Homo sapiens: one gene and its partner. The protein of the gene in region 2 purifies or fractionates together with the protein of the main gene of each other region. This does not show direct contact. Each region holds a gene or a part of one and is shown on either strand. Other genes may lie near its edges. The genes, in order: ZMYM1 and TTLL7.

Region 1 (10,266 bases), about 49 Mb from region 2:
AGAATGGCATGAACCCGCGAGGCAGAACTTGCAGTGAGCCGAGATCGCGCCACCGCACTCCAGCCTGGGTGACAGAGGAAGACTCCATCTCACCAAAAAAAAAAAAAAAAAAAAAAAGAAAGAAATAAAATAAATACATAAAAATAAAAACAAAAATACTTTTGTGTTTGGGTTTTATTGACCAGCAGACTATTGTTATTTTTGCTATACTTATTTCTAGTTTATAAACCGGCTCCAGCCTGCCTGCCTTTTCTTTAAGGTGAGATAATCGATCTGAGATTATTTAGGAAAATCTCCATATAGCATTTATCATGAATTCTTATGCAAGAAGAAACCGTTAAAAGCCTTCTATTTCATCTTCATCAACTTATCGACATTATTCCAAAGGGTACCAAAAACTACTTCCCACATTTTCCTAGAGTGAAACCATTCATAGGCCAGTTAATAGAAGAAACAATAGGTCTTTATTCATACCTGCTTATATGCTGTAATACTCTTTGAACTATTAAAGTAATGAGACTGTCCTTCCATCTGAAGTATGTGGGACAGACTAGAGCTGGTGTAACAGTAAGTGCCACAGTTCTCACAGCAGTTCATGATGAAGTTGTTAGCAGAGTGAAACTTTGAAAGGCAGGCATTACTGCAAAGATTATGTTTCACATTTTGGTATTTTACTTCATACTGAATCTAGGATTTAATAAAAAGATTCAGTAAAAACTCTGATATTTAAGCAGAATCATCAGAATCCCTGTAAAGGTTATAATTGGAACTTACAATAGCAGTCTTCTGGCACATGCTGCACTTGGTCAAAATGCTATTAGTACATATGGTAACAAATGGTTTTCTTTTTTCTTCATATGATGAAAGACAAGATAGGCTGCAAAAAGTTTTGCAAGAGGTAGTGTCTTCCAGCTGGACACTAATCACATCCTTTGGATTTAAAATGTCTCTAAGAATAAATAACAAGGACATCATTAAACAGTTTAAACACAATTATAACTTCTCTTTATAAATGAAATGACCTCTCAAATTAGAGTAAGAACATTAGCCTTGAAATAAGAAAACCTGAATTTGGTACCCAGTTCTGTCACATTTATACTCCCTAAATTTTAATTTTCTCATCTATACATTACAGATTATAAAGCACATCTAATAGTGCAGTTTTGTTTTTTAAGAGATAGGGTCTTGCTGTGTTGCCCAAGCTGGCCTCAAATTCCTGGGCTCAAGAGATTCTCCCACCTCAATCTCCCACATAGCTAGGATTACAGGCACATAATCCCACCATGCCTGACTTTGAAGATGTAGTTTTGGAGACTAGCCAGCCTGTATTATTAGGTGGTGCTAGTGAAAACCGAGGGATGATGAGAGATCACATATTCACATGAGCAACTCTAGAATCTATAGGACAGAGAATCTTAAAATATGGTCTTCAAATCCCTGGGGGAGTCCCCAAGATCAAAACTATTTTCATAGTAAGATGTTATTTGCTTTTTCACCGTGTTGATGTTTGCAACATCACTTTGCAACTGATGTTGCAAAGCTAATGGTAGGACCCTGCAATCCCACTCCTTGGTAAACACCCAAAAAAACTGAAAACAGGTACTCAAACAAGCACATGTACGTGCATATTCATAACAGCACTATTCACAATGGTCAAAAGATGAAAACAGCCCAAATGTTCATCAGTAAGTGAATGAATGAATAAGCACATTGTGTTACATACATACAGTGGAATATTATTCGCCTATTAACAAAAAGAATAAAGTACTGATACATGTTACAACATGGACAAACCTTGAAAATATTATGCTAAGGGAAAGAACCAGACACAAAAAGTCACTGCACTCTAGCCTGAGCAACAGAGTAATAATACCCTGTCACAAAAAGGTCATATATGATTCCATTTACATGAGATATTCAGGATAGATAAAATCTATAGATATAATGCATACTGGTGGTTGACAGGCACTGGGGGGAGAGGGAAATTAGGAGAAACTGCTTAGTGTTTAAGGTGTTTTACTTTGAAGTGATGGAAATGTTTTGGAACAAGATAGAGGGGATGGTCACACAACATTATGAATATACTAAATGCCAATGAAATGGTTAATTTCTTGGTATACAAATTTCACTTCAATGAATTTGGAAAAGAAAAAAGGCAATGGTGGGTAAAACCGTCAGAGCCTTAGCAGAAATCAAGGCAGTGGCACCAAAATGTGCTAATATTCATGTTATTCCCTGCTATACATTCACTGCCAAAAAAAATTCTTTTTAAAGTATCAGTTTCACTTAAGGAAGTACTCAATGAAACAGCAAAATATTTTAAATTATTTAAACTTCATCCTTAAGTACATTTAAAAAATATTCTGTCTTGGCCAAGTGGTAGGGTGAGAAAAAAAAATTCCGTGTGACAACACAGGACATAAGCATAAAGTACTTCTGTACACCAAAGGATGATGGTTGTCTCAAGGAAAAGCCCATATGGAAATGTTGAGTTATAAATGAATTAGCCACTTTTTTCATGGAAAACATTTTTACTTGAAAGTACTGTAAACAGTTTACTGTAAATAAAGACAAACTATTATCCAGAAGTGGGTATCTGCAGATATTTTCTTGAAAATGAAAAAAATGAGACTGTCACTTCAAGTAAAACGACAGTATTTATCGCCAACAATAAAATTTTGTCTTTCAAGTGATAATTAGAATTTTGGAAAACTTGTATCTTCCAACTTCAACTTGATCGATACCCAAAACTTAAAAACTTTTCTGAGATTAGTGGTGATTTTTAAAATACTGCATAATAAAATGAGAACATCTAGAAGATCTGCAGAACTCAGTGAACCAGTATTTTCCAAACTACAATAGCATATTACAAAAATCATTCACGGGTAAAAGATCCATTCAAAGTACAAGATAGATTAACGAATTCTAACATAACAGAGTGCAAAAAGTTCACTGATCCACATGGTACAAAAAGTTTGATCCCACATTGCAACTAGCCTTTAAGAAACTACCACTTGATTTTTGGTTGTAGTATCAAAGAACACCCACAACGATCTAAAAGGCTACTAAAACACTCCCCCCTTTTCCAATCACCTATTTATGAGGCCAGGTTTTCTTCAGACTTCAACCAAAACAACACTTTGCAATAAAGTGAAGGCAGAAACAGATACAAAAATCCAGCTAGATGTAAAGTGATTTGCAAAACTGATAAAACAATACTTATCAATTTTTAAAAATATGGGTATTTTTCATTTAAAATGTCATTTAATTTTTGATACAGTTAATATTCATAATCTACATAACTAAAGCTCTTTGGGTGTTCAATAATTTTTAAGGGTACAAGAAGTCCTGAGACCAGAAAGTTTGAGAACAGCCACTATAGAAAATATCAATACACCTAATAGCAGGCGCGGTGGCTCACACCTTTAATCTTGGGAGGCCAAGGTGGGCAGATCACTTGAGGTCAGGAGTTCGAGACTAGCCTGGCCAACCCCGTCTCTACTAAAAATATTTAAAAACATTAGTATTTTGTGATCAATGTTTTGGGAGTTATGAACACGACACTGTAAAATCACAGACCACAGAAGAATTAATTTGGGGGGTGGGCGGTTGTAAGAGGAGAGTGAGGAATGGTGTGGGAATAGACAAAAGGTAAAGATATTTGAGGCATACCTTTCAGACAGAATAAAGATACCAGCCAGATGGGAAGGGAGGAAGAAGAAACTACATCAGCGACGCATGGAAGTCTGAAAATGCTTCTTAGTTTTTATTGCTATCAGCATACTAGATTGCTGGCTTCTAAGAATCTACTAAAGCTTTATAAAAAATTGAAAAATGAATGTTGGCCAGGCACGGTGGCTCACATGTGTAATCCTGGGAGGCTGGGGCAGGCAGATACCTGAGGTCAGGAGTTGGGAGACCAGCCTGGCCAACACGGTGAAACCCCATCTCTACTAAAAATACAAAAATTAACGGGGCATGGTGATAGGCACCTGTAATCCCAGTTACTAGGGAGGCTGAGGCAGAAGAATCGCTTGAACCTGGGAGGCGGAGGTTGCAGTGAGCTGAGATCCCGCTATTGAACTCCAGCCTGGGCAAAACGGTGAGACTCCGCCTCAAAAAAAAAAAAAAAAAGAATGTTGGCTGGGTACGGTGGCTCACGCCCATAATGCCAGCACTTTGGGAGGGCAAGCCAGGAGGATCACTTGAGCCCAGGAGTTCAAGACCAGTCTGGACAACATGGTGAAATCATCTCTACAAAAAAATACAAAAACTGGACAGGCAGGGTGGCATGTGCCTGCAATCCCAGCTACTTGGGAGGGTAAAGGTGGGAGTATTGCTTAAGCCCAGGTGGTCGAGGCTGCAGTGAGCCAAGATGGTGCCACTGCACTCCAACCTGGGTGACAGACAGGGACCTTGTCTCAAAAAAAAAAAAGAAACGCCAACAAATTAGGAACAACTTTCCGATAAATAAATCAAACCTTAGTGCAGGGGCCTATTTTGGACTTTATTGATTGCATTCAGGATTTGCGGTTGGTTCCAACTGAGATACTAAAGTGAAGAAATGACACTTCTTAAATACAAAGTTCCCAAGAACAAGTCACATCTTTTTTTTTTTTTTTGAGACAGGGTCTCACTCCGTTGCCCAGGCTGGAGTGCAGTCGTACAATCTCAGCTCACTGCAACCTCCGTCTCCTGGGTTCAAGCAATTCTCCTGCCTCAGTCACTGGTGTAGCTGGGTTTACAGGCACACACCACCACGCCTGGCTAATTTTTATATTTTTAGTAGAGACAGGGATTTGTGGTGTTGGCTAGACTGGTCTCGAACTCCTGACCTCCAGTGATTCTCCTGCCTTGGCCTCCCAAAGTGCTGGGATTACAGGTGTGAACCACCTCGCTTGGCCCACAAATCGCATCTTTCTAATAAGATTTAAAATGTCATCTTCAAAGGGATCTTCCATTTGGTCCATGAAATAGAATAAAAAGTGCATTGACTCAAAACAGATATTAAATCATTCCTATAAAAGAAATCTTAAAAAGTAACTAAAAATCAGGCAGGGCGTGGTGGCTCATACCTATAATCCCAGCACTTTGGGAGGCCGAGGAAAGCAGATCACCTGAGGTCCGGAGTTCGAGACCAGCCTGGCCAACATGGCGAAACTGCATCTCTACTGAAAATAAAAAAACTAGCTGGGCACAGTGGCACACGCCTGTAATCCCAGCTACTTGGGAGGCTGAGGCAGGAGAATTGCTTGAACCCAGGAGGTGGAGGTTGCAGTAAGCCAAGATTGCACCATTGCACTCTGGCCTGGGTGACAGATTGAGACGAGACTCCGTCTCAGACAAAACAAAACAAAACAAACAAACAAACAAAACTGAAAATCAGCACGGTGGCTCACACCTGTAATCCCGGCACTTTGGGAGACCAAGGCAGGAGGATCACTTGAACTCAGGAGTTTAAGATCAGCCTGGGAAACATAGTGACTCTGTCTCTGCAAAAATAAATAAATAAGTAACTGAAAATTATTTTCAGTTCAGGATAGTTTCACTGGAAGATAAAAAAACCCCAGAAGAATAGCTAAAATTTATGTAAAAGGCTAATTAATGTGGAATTTTTAAGTTTTGAAAAAAGCAGCCTACTCTGAATCATGGATGGCCTTTTCCAGCCTAAAATTTACTACCATCTTTCTACCCACTACAATATAATATTTTTTATAAAAAAATTTTATTCTAGAGGAAGTAAAACTTATCTCAGATTTTTACTCATATTGGATTTCCATGCCTAGGAGAACTTACACACTAAATCTTTCCTGCTTCAGCCTTTTTCAATCTGTCTGGGACATCTGCTGAAGATGTGTAGTGAGTCTCTAAGGTCCCTTCCAGTTTTATGACTCTGCAGGGAGAGAAAGCAGGCTGAAGAGAGTACTATATGGCCCATAGCAAAAAAGTAAAAAGACAAAAGACTAGTATAGTATTGAAGGGTTGAAAAGCAAAAGAGAATGGTAAGTAACGTGCCATGGAATAAGACCTGAAGCAACAGATAATAACTGAAGCAGCAGCCAGAGGAGCTGAAGCAAACCCATCAAAAGGGTTTGTGAGTTTGTTAAGAGAATAATAATAGTTAACATTTATTGAGTTCTTACTACATGCTGGTATTGTTCTGACCACTTAAATATACTATTTAATGCTCATAATTCTTTTGTACATTTATCAAAAACAGATACGAATACTAAGTAACAAAGAAGTTCTCAATACTGCTCCAACTTTAGCATGTATAGGAATCACATGGCGATAAATGCAGTTCTGAATCAGCAGGTCTGGGTAAGACCTGAGAAAGTGCATTTCTTTTTTTTTCTTTTTGAGACAGTCAGTGCAGTGGCCTGATCTCAGCTTACTGCAACTTTAGCCTCCCGGGTTCAAGCAATTGTCCTGCTTCAGCCTCCCAAGTAGCTGGGATTACAGGTGCATGCCACAGTGCTCAGCTAATTTTTTTGTATTTTAGTAGAGACAGGGTTTCACTGTGTTGCCAGGCTGGTCTCAAACTCCTGAGCTCAGGCATTCTGCCCACCTCGGCCTCCCTAAGTGCTAGGATAACAGGCGTGAGCCACTGCTCCCAGCCTGAGAAAGTGCATTTCTAACAAACTCTTGGGTGATGCTGATCTAGCAACTCAGGGATGAAACTTTGAGTAGTAAAATATAACTAAACAGAAGAAGCAAAATTCAAATTATGGCAACCTGAGTCCAAAACAAGTATTATTTGAAAGAAATTTGTTATATTTAGAAGCACTGTGGTTGCCTATGGATTTTCTTGTTCTGAACAAGAACATTTAAAAATTAGCATATCCTAAGTGCTAACAACCATAATTATACAGCCTTAGGACTCTCAAAGCCAAAATGACACTGATTCTTCACACATTCTCACATAAATTTTTAAAAGATTACATAGAGACATGTAGGTTTATCTATGGCCATCAATTTTTCAAAAGAATCACTTCATTTACCATTATAAAAGAAATATAATATTATTCCACATCTTGGAAAATCCAAACTAACTGTCATAGGATTAATTTTTTAGTAGGTTGCTCCCTATACAGTTAAATAGAACAGAATGGATAAACAATAATCCCATTTACAGAGAATTTCAAATGAAAAGAGTAAAGGTGAAGAGAAACAGTACTTTTCACATTAATTTCTGCAAAAAAAAATATTTCTACAGAATCCATCAGAGGAACTAAAAGTAGAAAAAACTTCTTTTTACTAAACCAAGACGACACGTCTTCAAAAGAAATGAAAATGGCCGGGCGCAGTGACTCACACCTGTAATCCCAGCACTTTGGGAGGCCAAGGCAAGCGGATCACCTGAGGTCAGGAGTTCAAGACCAGCGTGGCCAACATGGCGAACGAAACCCCATCTCTACTAAAAAATACAAAATTAGCCGGGCGTGGTGGTGCATGGCTGTAATCCCAGCTACTTGGGAGGCTGAGGCAGGAGAATCGCTTGAACCCAGGAGGTGGAAGTTGCAGTGAGCCGAGATCGTGCCACTGCACTCCAGCCTGGGCAACAAGAGTCAAACTCAGTCTCAAAAAATAAAAAAAGAAAATGTAGAAATTACAACTAAGACTATGATCAAGAACAAGGTAGGGAAATAAAAGGGGGCATAATTTAGAATTATATACTTTGAGCAGTTTGAACAAGTTCTCTTAGAAGGAACTGGTGAACTGGCAGATGAAATGTATTCAGTGATGCATGGTATGGAGCAGAAAAGTTGAGCAGATCCTTTCCTCTGATAAGCAGTTTGCCCCTTCTGGAGAATTTTTTTACAACCAGCACAGGAAACCTGAATAGCTGTGGTTGAAACTGAAGGAAGCATTTTATTCACGCCAGATGATGCCAGAGAAAGCTGAATGCCTGCAGTCAACTGTGAAGCTATAAAAACACAAGAGGGAGAAAAAAAAATTGTTATTTACACAAAATTAAGTAGGCATTCCTTTATTTTCTTTCTTTCTTTTTTTAGAGACAGGGTCTTGTTCTGTTGCCCTCTTTTGCACTCTAGGCAGTGTAGTGATACGATCATGGCTCACTGCAGCCTTGACACCCTGTACTCAAGTGACCCTCTCACCACCTGGTGCGGTGGCTCACGCCTGTAATCCCAGCACTTTGGGAGGCCAAGGCAGGTGGATCACCTGAGGTCAGAGTTCAAGACCAGCTTGGCCAACATGGTGAAACCCCATCTCAATTAAAAATACAAAATTAGCCAGGTGTGGTGGCTAACGCCTGTAATCCCAGCATTTTGGGAGGCAAGGTGGGTGGATCACGAGTTTAAGAGATTGAGACCATCCCGGGCAATATGGTGAAACCCCGTCTCTACTATAAAAATTAGCTGGGCATGGTGACACATGCCTGTAGTCCCAGCTACTCGGGAGGCTGAGGCAGGAGAATCGCTTGAACCTGAGAGGTGGAGGCTGCAGTGAGGCGAGATCATGCACTGCCCTCCAGCCTGGCAACAGAGCGAGAGCGAGACTCCGTCTCAAAACAAACAAAATTATCTGGGTGTGGTGGCACGGGCCTGTGATCCTAGTTACTTGGGAGGCTGAGGCAGGAGCACTGCTTGAACCTGGGTGGCAGAGGTTGCAGTGAGCCAAGATCGTGCCATTGCACTCCAGCCTGGGCAACAAGAGCGGAAACTCCATCTCAGAAAAAAAAAAAAAACCTCCCGCCTCAGCCTCCCAAGTAGCTGGGACTATAGGCATGCACCACCACACCTGGTTTTTAAATTTTCTGTAGAGACAGGATCTCGCTATGTTGCCCAGGCTGGTCTCAAACTCCTGCCCTCAAGCTGATCCTTCCACCTTGGCCTCCCAAAATGTTGGGATTACAGGCATGAGGCACCATGCCCAGCCTCTTTGATTTTCTTCTCTTTTTTTTTTTTTTTAGACAGAGTCTCGCTCTGTTGCCCAGGCTGGAGTGCAGTGGTGCAATCTTGGCTCACCACAACCTCTGCCTCCCAGGTTCAAGCAAATCTCCTGCCTCAGCCTCCTGAGTAGCTGGGATTACAGGCATGCGCCACCACGCCTGGCTAATTTTGTATTTGTAGTAGAGACAGGGTTTCACTATGTTGGCCAAACTGGTCTCGAATTCCTGACCTCATGATCCGCCTGCCTCGGCCTCCCAAAGTGCTGGGATTACAGGTGTGAGCCACTGTGCACGGCCTCTCTTTCATTTTCTTACAGGTTACTTCTCCTGGACTTAAAACCCAACACAAACAAAGCAATATTCAAAGGCATTAAAAAAGAATGAATCAGCTGTCGTATTGGTCTGAATAAACATAACTAACTTAAATAATTCTATTACCACTCTCTGAAAACACAGCATTTATTTTCAGTTCATTCTCCTGAGTTCTGGACTGTTGCCTATGACAATACTCCTAAAAAGAAAAAAAAAATAATAATTAAAAATAGTGAATACAATGAATTTAAGACAACCAGTCATTCAACAGAAAATGATAAATTGTGGTCAAGTCTGGTCAATGAATTGTATAACTGAATTGAACCAAAATACACAGGTATGCACTACCCTTTTGGTGCTCTTTGGCTGACAACACTAATCACCCAATACATTATTTTCTATGGTATCCAGGTGTGACATCAAAATCTTTGTCAACAAAATCCCTCCATTCACTATCAATAGGGAGCAGACATATTGAATTACAACTATTTTCCCTACTTGTTTTTTTTTTTTTTTCTTTTTTTTTTGAGACAAGATCTCACTCTGTCACCCAGGCTGGAGTACAGTGACGCGATCTCGTCTCACTATAACCTACTTCTGGGTTCAAGTGATTCTTCTGCCTCAGCCTCCCAAGTAGCTGAGACTACAGGCACATGCCTCCATGCCCGGCTAATTTTTTAATTTTTAGTGGAGATGTTGCCCATGGTCTTGAACTCCTGGCCTCAAGTGATCTGCCTGTCTCACCCTCCCAAAATGCTGGGATTACAGGAATGAGCCACCACACCCAGCCTTCCCTGCTTGCTCTAATCATTAACAGCTAATTGTCTTCATAAAGACCTTAACCCAAGAAATTGTTAATTGGGCAGAATGATTCTTACAAAGGACAATTTTTTCAGAGCAGGAGGCAATTTCATAGCCACCATATCTAAACTTGATCTATGCCTGAATGTCCATGGCATGAAGAAGCAATAGATAGTTCCTAGATGAGTAACATTCCCCAGTGTTAACAACTCAATGGTAAGCATACCCTTATTTAATAT
Region 2 (10,137 bases):
CCAGGAAAAATATTTGCTAAGCTCACTTCAACTTTGACAGATAATGCCTGAGAGAAATGGAGATAGATTTACCACCTTCTAAGAGCTTACAAACTTTTCAATAATAGGTTTCAACTAAGCACAGGACAAATTCTGCCTAAAATACTCTGCCTATGTTAATGTCCAGCTTCTATCAGAAATCCTCTTTCAGGACCTGAAAAGTGGGGTGGGAATCCTCTTTTTGGTTTATAATGTGATGCTTTTGTTTTCATTGTTTCAAGTCTCTCAAGACTGATGGCATAGTATAAGAACCTGCCTCTCTGCTCCCTAGTTGTGCCCTCAGGCACATTCATCTGCCTTGGCTCTGCTTCCACTGGCTCTCATAGACACTTAATGGCCTGCCTACCTCAATGGATTCCCAGCCTTGAAAGAGAGTGGAGGTAGGACAGTGAGGAAGCTCAGGTGAGAACCTGGAGGAGCAAGTCAGGAGCCCAAAGGACCCGTCCAACACTGGGCCCCTGCCCTTCTCATTGCAAGAAGGTAGTGCCAAGTATCCCTACAATGAATAGAGGAAACTGAAGCACAGTCTCTCTCCTGCATGAGGGGAATTTCCTCTGGTGGAAGGATACTGGGAACAAGGGGAGGGGGAGCATCTGAATGCTGAGAAGAGATGTTGGGAACTTTATGCATCTGACAATCACTGTTCTCAAAGGTCATCTCTGGCAAATGTACAGGGGAGGCAGGAGAGGTCTTTAATGTCTGTCAACTGTCCCTCCCTTACACCTTATACCTTGTGCCCAGGACTTCTGCTCAGACCTAAGCAGAGGTCCCAAATTCCTGCTCTCACCTTTGTGAATTCCCCAAATTAGAGTGCAAAAGTGAGCTCACAGCTGTGCCTTGCAATATCAGGACCCTGAAGCTGGAGACCTGGGAATCTGATATAAGAGGATAGAATAAACTGAAATTTGAAGGAGATAGATATGTGTGTTGTGGGTGAGGGAATGCAGAGGTTTACAGCTGAAGTCCACAAATACAACACTGGAACCAGAAAGTAGTCTATCACATATTCTCCTTCTCTGACTATCAACTCTTACTCACTCTCACCAAGCCTGTTCTCCAACTTAGTATCTTCTCTCCTCAGTAACACCAACTGCCTGCCTTTCTCCCAGTCTCCATGATTTAATCAGTCTTTAGTCTAATCAAAAGAAGTTGCTTGAAAGACTATAATCTGAGGAGCCACAGACAAGATTGGGTGTTATGAATTATTAATATGCAAATATTCTATAATCAACATGTAAGTATTCCAAATTGAACACTGGGAATTGATACAGTTTGGATATGGGTCCCTATCCAAATCTCATGTTGAATTTTATTCCCCAGTGTTGGAGGTGGGGGTGGGAAATATTTGAATCCTGGGGACATATCCATCATGAATGGCTTAATGCATCCCTTTGGCGGTAAGTGAGCGCTCACTCTGAGTTCTCACAAGATCTGGTCACTTAAAGTGTGTGGCACCACCCCCTCACTCTCTCTCTTGCTCCTGCTTTCTGCTATGTGACGTGCCTGCTCCCCCTTCCCCTTCAACATGATTGGACGCTTCCTAAGGCCTCCCCAGAAGCAGATGCTGCCATGCTTCCAGTACAGCCTGCAGAACTGTGAGCCAATTACACCTCTTTTCTTATAAATTACCTAGTTTCAGGTATTTATTTATAGCAATGCAAGAATGGCCTAATATAAGAACTCAGTAGTTTCAAAACTTGCTTAAAATAGTGCAACTTCAAGACCTCATACCCTTTAACCCAGAAATTTTATTTCTGAGACTCTATGCAAAGGAACTAATATTCAAAATACAAAAAAAAGCATACGCACAAAGATGTTCATCACAGTGCTATTATTATCATCAATAATTGTTTATTATGATGTCATCAATAGTGACAATGAGGAACAATTAGGCAATGATAATACATCTACCAAATGGAAAATTATGTAGTCATTTTTAAGCCTGCTATTAGGCATTTTAAACCTAGTATTAAGCCAGTTGTAATTAAATGAAAACTAAAGTTATAGAATTTTAAATTTAAAAATAATATAAAAGTAATATAGATACCATAATTAAAACTACGCATGAAAAAAGTGGAAAGAAACATGTCAAAAATGAATAGTGATTGTCTTTAGTTGGTCAAATTATGAGGGTGTTTTTTTCCTTTTTATATTCTTAAACTTTCCAAATTGTTCATAATTATCTAATGGGGGCCGGAGCTAAAAGGCAAATTCCTTTGGAAGAGGAAAAATTGTACTTGCACAGAAAACTTTTTCTCAGTTTAGTTGACAATCCTTTTAGTACCCAGGAAACAGACCATTTCCTGGAAGGGGACTCGGGGCAACAGATATGGAGAATGTAAGAAAGAGAAATGATTAACAGATCAGAAACAGATCTCACTGTCTGACATTCAAGTTTCTTCATGATCTTTCACCATGTATCCAAACAGTAGATGAGCACTTCTTAGCTGAACCTTTATGTGGCTTTCTCTTTGCCTATCAGAATCCTTCCAGTCTCTGAGACTGATTTAATTCACTTCAACCCATGAAGACTTTCCTGATCCTCTGATCATCCAAGGCTCTACTATTTCTCTTTTCTCTTAAGGTACCGCTATAGCAGTAGGTCTGCACCACCCTTTTCTGGTATTAAGCCAATTCTAAGTTATTTGTTAATTACTCACGTGTAAGTAAAATTTCCCCTGCTAGACTTTAAGTTCCTTGAAGTGGGGAATTTAGATGGTTTGCAGACTGTAGTCATTGGACAGAGGAGAGAGAGCAGTTCTAAAGCCAAGTTGGTATTATATTCATACTCTCAGTGATGTCATCTAAGTAAAATGTGCTGTCTCTGTTTTAAAATGTTGCTGCTGACCATCCATCACCAGGACATGCACTTTCCTTTTTTTTTTTTTAACAGCAGTGGTATTGTATTTTTGCTTATTCATTCATGCCAGTTCTGCTGTCCCCCTTAGGATTAAACAGATTGGATTACAAGATGCCTTGCCAAGGTTCAGGATATAGGTTATAGCCATGTAAAGAACAAAATGAAATGACTTTTAGGAATCAAACTCAAGACTCTTCACAAGACCCCACTTCTCATACTCTTGTTTGAACAACAAATATAAATTTGTGCCTCCATTTTATGTCCTTATTTAGGCAGTGGACTTTATCAATACCCCCGTTAACTTGAAAAAGAATTCTCCAATGCAAATGGTTCAATACTTTAGAAATGACATACTAAGATGACTCTGTTCCTGCCTACCATCAATACTATGTGAGTATTTAGAGATAATGAGCATCTGTACTATAGCAACCTGCCTCTTGAGACATAAACAAGAGATGCATTTCTTAAGAAAAAATCTGTAAGTCGCTAATGAAAGCAAGTCAAAGGACCCATCAACGGGCGAAGAAAGACCTAGCATCCATTATTTTTACAGAAGGAGCATAGAAGGTCAATATAATTGTTGACTCTTAACGGCAGGGTAACAACAAACTAATTCAGTTTCCCACTATATAAGAACTACATTTTACTACAACACTCATATTTCTAAACTGACTAAGAGTCAAGGCTTGTCCAAATTCCATGGCTTACTGAGTGGTCTTGAACCTTCTCTGAATTTTGTTCCTTAGTCTGTAAAATGGAGTTATCACCTGTTATGCAATATCACAGAGTTGTAATGAATCAAGTAACATTATCTTAGTATGGGTTCACCTGTCACCCTATTGTGGGGTGCAGTTCAGTCGCACACCTCATGAACTAAGTAACTATTATTACTGTAAATGTCTCCCTAACATTTAAGACAGAAAAAGATTTCCAGAGTTCTTCTTACGTTTTTAATCGACTTCTCCAACACTTGAGCATCCACCAAATATCACTGCCAAAAATGTGCTGAACATCTCCTGTTATGACCTCACTCTCCTATGTAGTGTTGTTCACATATTTTTTGCCATAAGCTTTCTAAGAAAATAGATTATTTTTCACATGATTCAAAGCATCTTTCTTTCATATTGAAGGAGCAATAATTCCTTATGCAGAAAGTTTACAGGTTGTTGTTGCTGTTGTTTGAGATTACTCCTCAATTAATTAATTCTATGTTTAATATCTAATAGAGCATATATATGTACACTTGGACACACTCCATTAATACAGTGGAAAATCCATGGACTATAGAGTCAGGAAAACCTATATTCGAATTCCTGTTCTGTGACCTTGAGAATGTAATTTAACTTCCCTGCTCCTCAGTTTCCACATTTGGTTCTGGATTATGATGATTTAATAAAATACGATATATAAAAGTAAGTGCCTAGGCTATGAAGGTATTATTTCCTACCTCTCCTAAATCTTTTCTTTCTATGCCAGGATCAATCAAACCCACCCAGAATACAAGGCAACTTTCATAGGGTATCTTTTACATCAGTCGAGGGAACGCTGCGATGTGATATAAGTGGATGATGGCATGAGTCAGGCATCCAACAGAGCAAGATGTGGAGAAAGTGAGAGGTACCTACAAGGGCCCTAGACTTCACTCGCATGTGCGAAAAGGGCATTTTGATACCCTTTCAAGAATGCCCCGCATACTCGCGGAGGCTTATACCACGATGTGGGAAAACGACGGAATTACAGAATAAACCAGCAGGGAGCCTCCTCGTTCACCCAACCCGACCCCGCCCGCCCGAGTCTCCCATCTGGAGCCTAAAAACTGAGCTGAGATCACAGCAACTGACCCCGTCCCCTCCGCCCTCTCCCTCCCCCATTCTGCCCAAACCTCTCAGGGCACGAATGGTGCTGAATCATTTGCACGAACGCAGCAGCTCCCCGTTCCGCGGCTCCCAGCGGGGACGGTGTCCCCAGAGCAGTGACAGTCCGGGGATGGGGGCCCGGAAAGAGGGCCAGGGCGGAGCCTTTGGGGACGTGGGGACATGGAAGGGGGTCGGGGGAGGATGGCGGCAGCAGGTACTCACCCGGGTGAGGAAAGCCCAGCCCGGGTCCTCGCGTCCCCGCTGCAAGCGGTCCCCCAGGTGCTCCCGCGCCTCGCAGCTTCCCCGTGGGCGGCCGCCCCGACTCGGCAGCCTGCACTGGTGGTCCGGTGCTCTCCTCCGCCCGCCCACCGCCCGTGGCAGCCACGGCTCGGGACTCCGGTGCTCGACGCGGAGTGCCTGGAACAGCTGTCGCTGCCCAAGCGGGTGGCGGCTACCGACGGGCCAGACCATTCGCCTGCTGCGGCCGGGGGTGCACGACGTGCCGAGAGGCGCGGGCGCCGGGGGCGGCGACGGTTGGGAGGAACAAAGGACTCGGGGAATCCTCTGCCCCCTCGGAGTCAGGAGGTCCTGGGGACAGGAGGGATCAACGGAGGGGCCGCTGCCTCTTCTGGGGGTTTACTGAAGACACTGCTCGAGCTTTCCCGGGCCACACACACCCCCCCCCCGTTTGCCTTGGTCCCGCTCGGGGCTCCTTTAGAACGCGGCAAACAGAGGACTTAGCAACGCGAGCGCCTGGGCGGCGCCCCTCCTCAGAGATGCGAGAGGCGCTGGCCTGAGCGCCTCCGGCCACCTCCTTCTACCTCCGGGCCCTAGGCGCCCGATCCACCTGCCTATCTGACCACAGACATCTTCCCACAAAACAGTGGAGCTTTTTGAATCTTTGAAGAGAGTCTTCAGATCTTTTATCTAAGCATCTTTGTGAAGCAAAGAATAAACGGGTATCTGAGGCCAGCTCGAAAGTTAGGAAATAAAATCAGGTGGGGCCCCATCCCGTAGATGCTGAGGGACAGCTCTGACCTAGAGTTCCTGCTAAGCAAATGTTGAACCACGGCAGTTGTAAAAAAATGTAGATTTAGGAAGCCATTTCGAGATAAAGATTTACAGAAGATTGTTGCAGAAATTAAAGAATATTCGAGGTTCATTGTTCACCATTTTAGAGTTGCGTGTCTTGAAAACGGGAAGGCAATCATGTCTTCTCATAAAATGAATTGTATAGAACTGGAAGAAGTCCTAACACATGAATTCCTTAGACTTTTGTGGTCCCTGCTTCTGTCACGCTGGGTTCACACAGGTTCATTTCAGAGCATGGTGAAGATCAGGACAAGTGTACAGTTTTCCCTGTAGAAAAAAAGAAAAGATAGAACAGAATTGGCAACTACCTATAAAATGTGATTAAAGGTAGGAAAAAAAAAGGCCCTCCAAGTGCATCCCAAAAAATATAAAATTTCACAATTTAAAGTTTTGTCCTTCGTTGAGTAAATCAACATAAATTCAGCACTTTCTATAGACCACTGTGCTGAGAATAGTCTCATTTTCATTTCTTCATTTATTCTTCTAAAAACTCCTGTGAGATTGGTAACCTGCAATAGACCTCCATACAGCCTTGCCAGCATTGGGAACTGATCTGGTCAGTGAGGGCATCTTCTCATAAAGGACACTGGTGAGAAACTGGGCTCAGGGTTTGTCGTGCTGGGTTAGTCTCACGATCATAAGCGGCAGAGCAGACATTGCCACCTGGAGTTTTTGACTTGTTCCTTTCCCCTAGAATGCCTCTGAGAACGATATACATTAAACCGTGTCACATCTGTGATTGCAACTTGAATGTGAGTCTGTTTATCCTTCCTTTGTGAGAAGGGGTTTTAGAATGGAGAGGGGGCAGTTAGGTGTCCAGGGTAGGCATCACCCTGAGGCAAGAAGAGTGATCAGAAAGAAGAAGCTGGACTTCACCCAGAACTAGCCGAACATCAGCGTCACAATACACTGTCAAGGTCACATGAGGTTGAAGAGGAATTCTCCACTGCCTTCTTGTTAATCATCTTTACATCATTATTTTCACTGTATTACACTTTACACTATGCATGCACTATTACTACATTACATGTTATCATTCTTCCATTCCTAGGAAGGGGCAAGAATTTTTCAATAAACCTATTATCATGGGTCCTCATATACCTTATCAAAAAAAATGTTAAGTAACAGAGGTATTAGCAACACTTAACGTCACCTCAAGAAAGCTTTTTGAGAAATCAGGAATAAAATTAAATTGTTTCTGTATGATATGATATTGTTACTATGTTAATGGTTGTTGTAAAGATTCACACGTCAGCAGCAGCAAAACAGAAATCCCCAAAGTTGCATGTTGCCGAGGAGCAGGAGCATTGGGTCCCCAGTGGCCAGACTGGCCTCAGGCTCAGAAATGTGTGATTCTTCTCTCCATGTGCAGTTGTTTCACTTTCAAAGGCAACAACAGGAACAGAACACATGTAGATGAGGCGTCTTCTGAGTTAGTGCTTTATGTCAGATGTTAGATGATAGGGATATAGAAAGGAATTTAGAGCCTTATGATTTGTGGTGCGGATGGGCCAGTGACATCTGCAGCAATCTGTTTGTATAAGTTGACACTCTTGGAACATATGTTTCTGAATGAAGAAAGGGGAATTTTTGTGCTGGCAGCCTTGGGAAATTGTCAAAAGAAGTGGAAGGAATGGTGTGATGCCTGCATTCCCTGCTTTCCTCAGAGTCCTCAAATGGTTTTGAGCCTGCTGTGTAAAGAACTTAGGGCCAGAAGCTAAATAATCATCTTCCCCACAAATGACTTTGTGAAATTTAAGTTCTAAGAAGTACTACTTTAGGCCTGGTGACAAATGACAGCATGGAGCTGGCAAGAGAGCCATTCTCTCACCCAACCTGAAATAGACCTCCATACAGCCTTGCCAGCGATAGGAACTGATCTGCCCAGTGAGGGTATATTCTCATAAAGAACACTGGTGGCCGATACAAGGTCAAGGTAACTTAAGTAGGAGCCCAGAGCAGTAAAGCAGGAGTGGTATTATTCCTGAGCACCTGAAAGACACTGCTGAGGATTTCTTGCTGCAAATGATGGAGACTAGGGAGGCACTGCAGGGTCAAGGGAATCATTATTAAACTCAAGATGATTGTTAAACCTTATTTAGGCACCGATATTAACATGAACTCATTTGTATTCACAAACTAGCATGATCTGGGAACATTCCAATATTACTTTTTAAATGATACTAATAAGAAGAGAGCTAGAGAGAAAGAGAATACTTAATGCCTTTGATAAAACTGCATTGTGAGCCACAAAATGTTAAATCTTGATGCAAGATATTCCAGTACCTGCTATGTGTTGGTCTCTTACCAAAGCATGTGGTGACATTAACCTCTCAACTTATTCTTGCTGAAGAGAGTGCTTAATTGTGTTGTTTCTCTTTGCGTTTAGCTAACACTTATTAAATCATTAGTGTTTGAGTAACTAGTATTATGTGAAGTAAGTACTATTATCACTCCCATTTTATAAATGAAGAAACTGAGAATTACAAGGGTGTATTAATTTGTCAAAGGTAGCACAATTGGAAAGAGACAAAGCTGGATTTCAAACACTAACCAATACATGACGTGAATATCAGCATACTTTTACTGTCTCCTGCTATAGAGAACATGTACATTGCATGTTTCTCTGCAGCAGAATCTATTTTTTATTTATTATTAAAAACCTGTTTTCAACTCTCATTTCTAAGAGGAAATGAGTCATTTCCCACAGAAGATTTAAACATTGGATACCCTTTTCTAGGTTTCTGTGCTCAGAAAAGAGACCCTGAATTTAAGAATAAGAAGTGAACCTTGTAACATAAACTTGACCAGTGATGCCTAAAATTCTTGCTGCAAAATTATGATTGCAGGAACTCCTGCATGAGACTCTGGAAACTAGATTCCTATGAAGTTCTGTAGGTGGTTCTAATGTACAGCCAAGTTTGACCAGACCATACTGGACAAAAACAATATGGGGCCTACAAAAAATAACATTCAGGCTTCTAGACTTAACCCCTTAATCCCACCTTTTATTAAGAAGGAAATAAGAGGCTGTTATTTAAAACCTACATTATGTAATTTTACATTTATCATATAAAATGTATTTATTAAAGGGTTTAGAATTTTTCTCAGTGTTGTTTTTGTCATTCTCAACAAATCTTCAAAAAGCCCCAAATTTAAAATGATACTCATTCAAAATTACTTTTATATATAGATATTGGACTTTAAGCCCTTTTTAATTATTATACGGCATTTTATATAAGACAAAAAGTCATATTGCATTAGACTTTTGTTTTAATTTTTGGAGAATTTACATGACAGTAAGTCATTTCATCCAAGAAGATAATAAGCTTTTCTAGTTTATGTTTTTTCATTTCCCAATCATATTTTTATAATTTTGCTTATATATGTTCTGTAACTTTCTTACCAAAGTTGTACCAAATTTTTTATAGCACTTGTATTCTGAATGAAATGTTCTTTCCATTTCCTTTTGTAGGGTCTTCTACCAGAACAGAGAGATGATGCTTTCTGTAATTTATTTTGTATTCATTCAGTGCACCAAATTATCTTATTACTTGTTTTTTCATGAGTCCCTTGGATTTTCCAAGAAAACAGGCATATCAGCAATATCAAGAACTTTGTTTCTGGCTGGGCACAATGGCTTATGCCAGTAATCCCAACACTTCGGAAGGCCAGCGTGAAAGGAACACTTGACCCCAGGAATTTGAGACCAGCCTGGGCAACATAAGGAGATCTGTCTCTATAAAAAATAAGAAATTAGCTGTGCGTGGTGGCACCAGCCTACAGTCCCAGCTACTCAGGAGGCCAATGTGGGAAGATCCCTTAGTCCAGGAGTTCAAGGCTGCAGTGAGCCTTGATCACGCCACTGGCTCCACTCCGAGCAACAGAGTGAGACTGTTTATAAAATATATAAAAATGTATATTTGTTATAATTTATACCAGTTATTTTATTTATATTTGTTAGAATCACTAATGTAAGTGATTGTGGTGATGCCTGATTCCAGATTTTAAGTGAAAGATTTAATTTTTGTGATTTGGGATGATGTTCGCTATTGGGCTTTCCTTTATTATAAAAGAAATTTTTTCTGATTCTATTTTGCTTAAAGTCACTTGACTTTTATCTGATGCCTTTCCACAACTTATTGATAATGGTTGGGCTTTTTCCCTTTAATTTTTAATGTAATCAATATGTAGCTAGACTTCCTGATATTGAACCGCCTTTTCATTCCTCTAATAAAGCCTATTTTTTCACACCATGTTATTCACGTGATTCATTCCTCTATTGTATTC

What was found.
Region 1: the proteins of TTLL7 (region 2) and ZMYM1 purify together in Homo sapiens (affinity purification with mass spectrometry; 2 studies listed by BioGRID and IntAct, with this or other methods). This does not show direct contact.

The regions. Positions count from the first base shown.
Region 1 is NC_000001.11:35,094,978-35,105,243, reverse strand, and holds part of ZMYM1 (zinc finger MYM-type protein 1), read right to left. Parts: intron 9,426-10,266; coding exon 9,353-9,425; intron 7,928-9,352; coding exon 7,678-7,927; exon of another isoform or gene 5,797-7,677; intron 5,424-5,796; exon of another isoform or gene 5,402-5,423; intron 950-5,401; coding exon 775-949; intron 688-774; coding exon 475-687; intron 1-474.
Region 2 is NC_000001.11:83,993,954-84,004,090, forward strand, and holds the start of TTLL7 (tubulin polyglutamylase TTLL7), read right to left. Parts: upstream 5,180-10,137; 5' UTR 4,978-5,179; intron 1-4,977. UniProt on the Homo sapiens protein: Polyglutamylase which modifies tubulin, generating polyglutamate side chains of variable lengths on the gamma-carboxyl group of specific glutamate residues within the C-terminal tail of tubulin.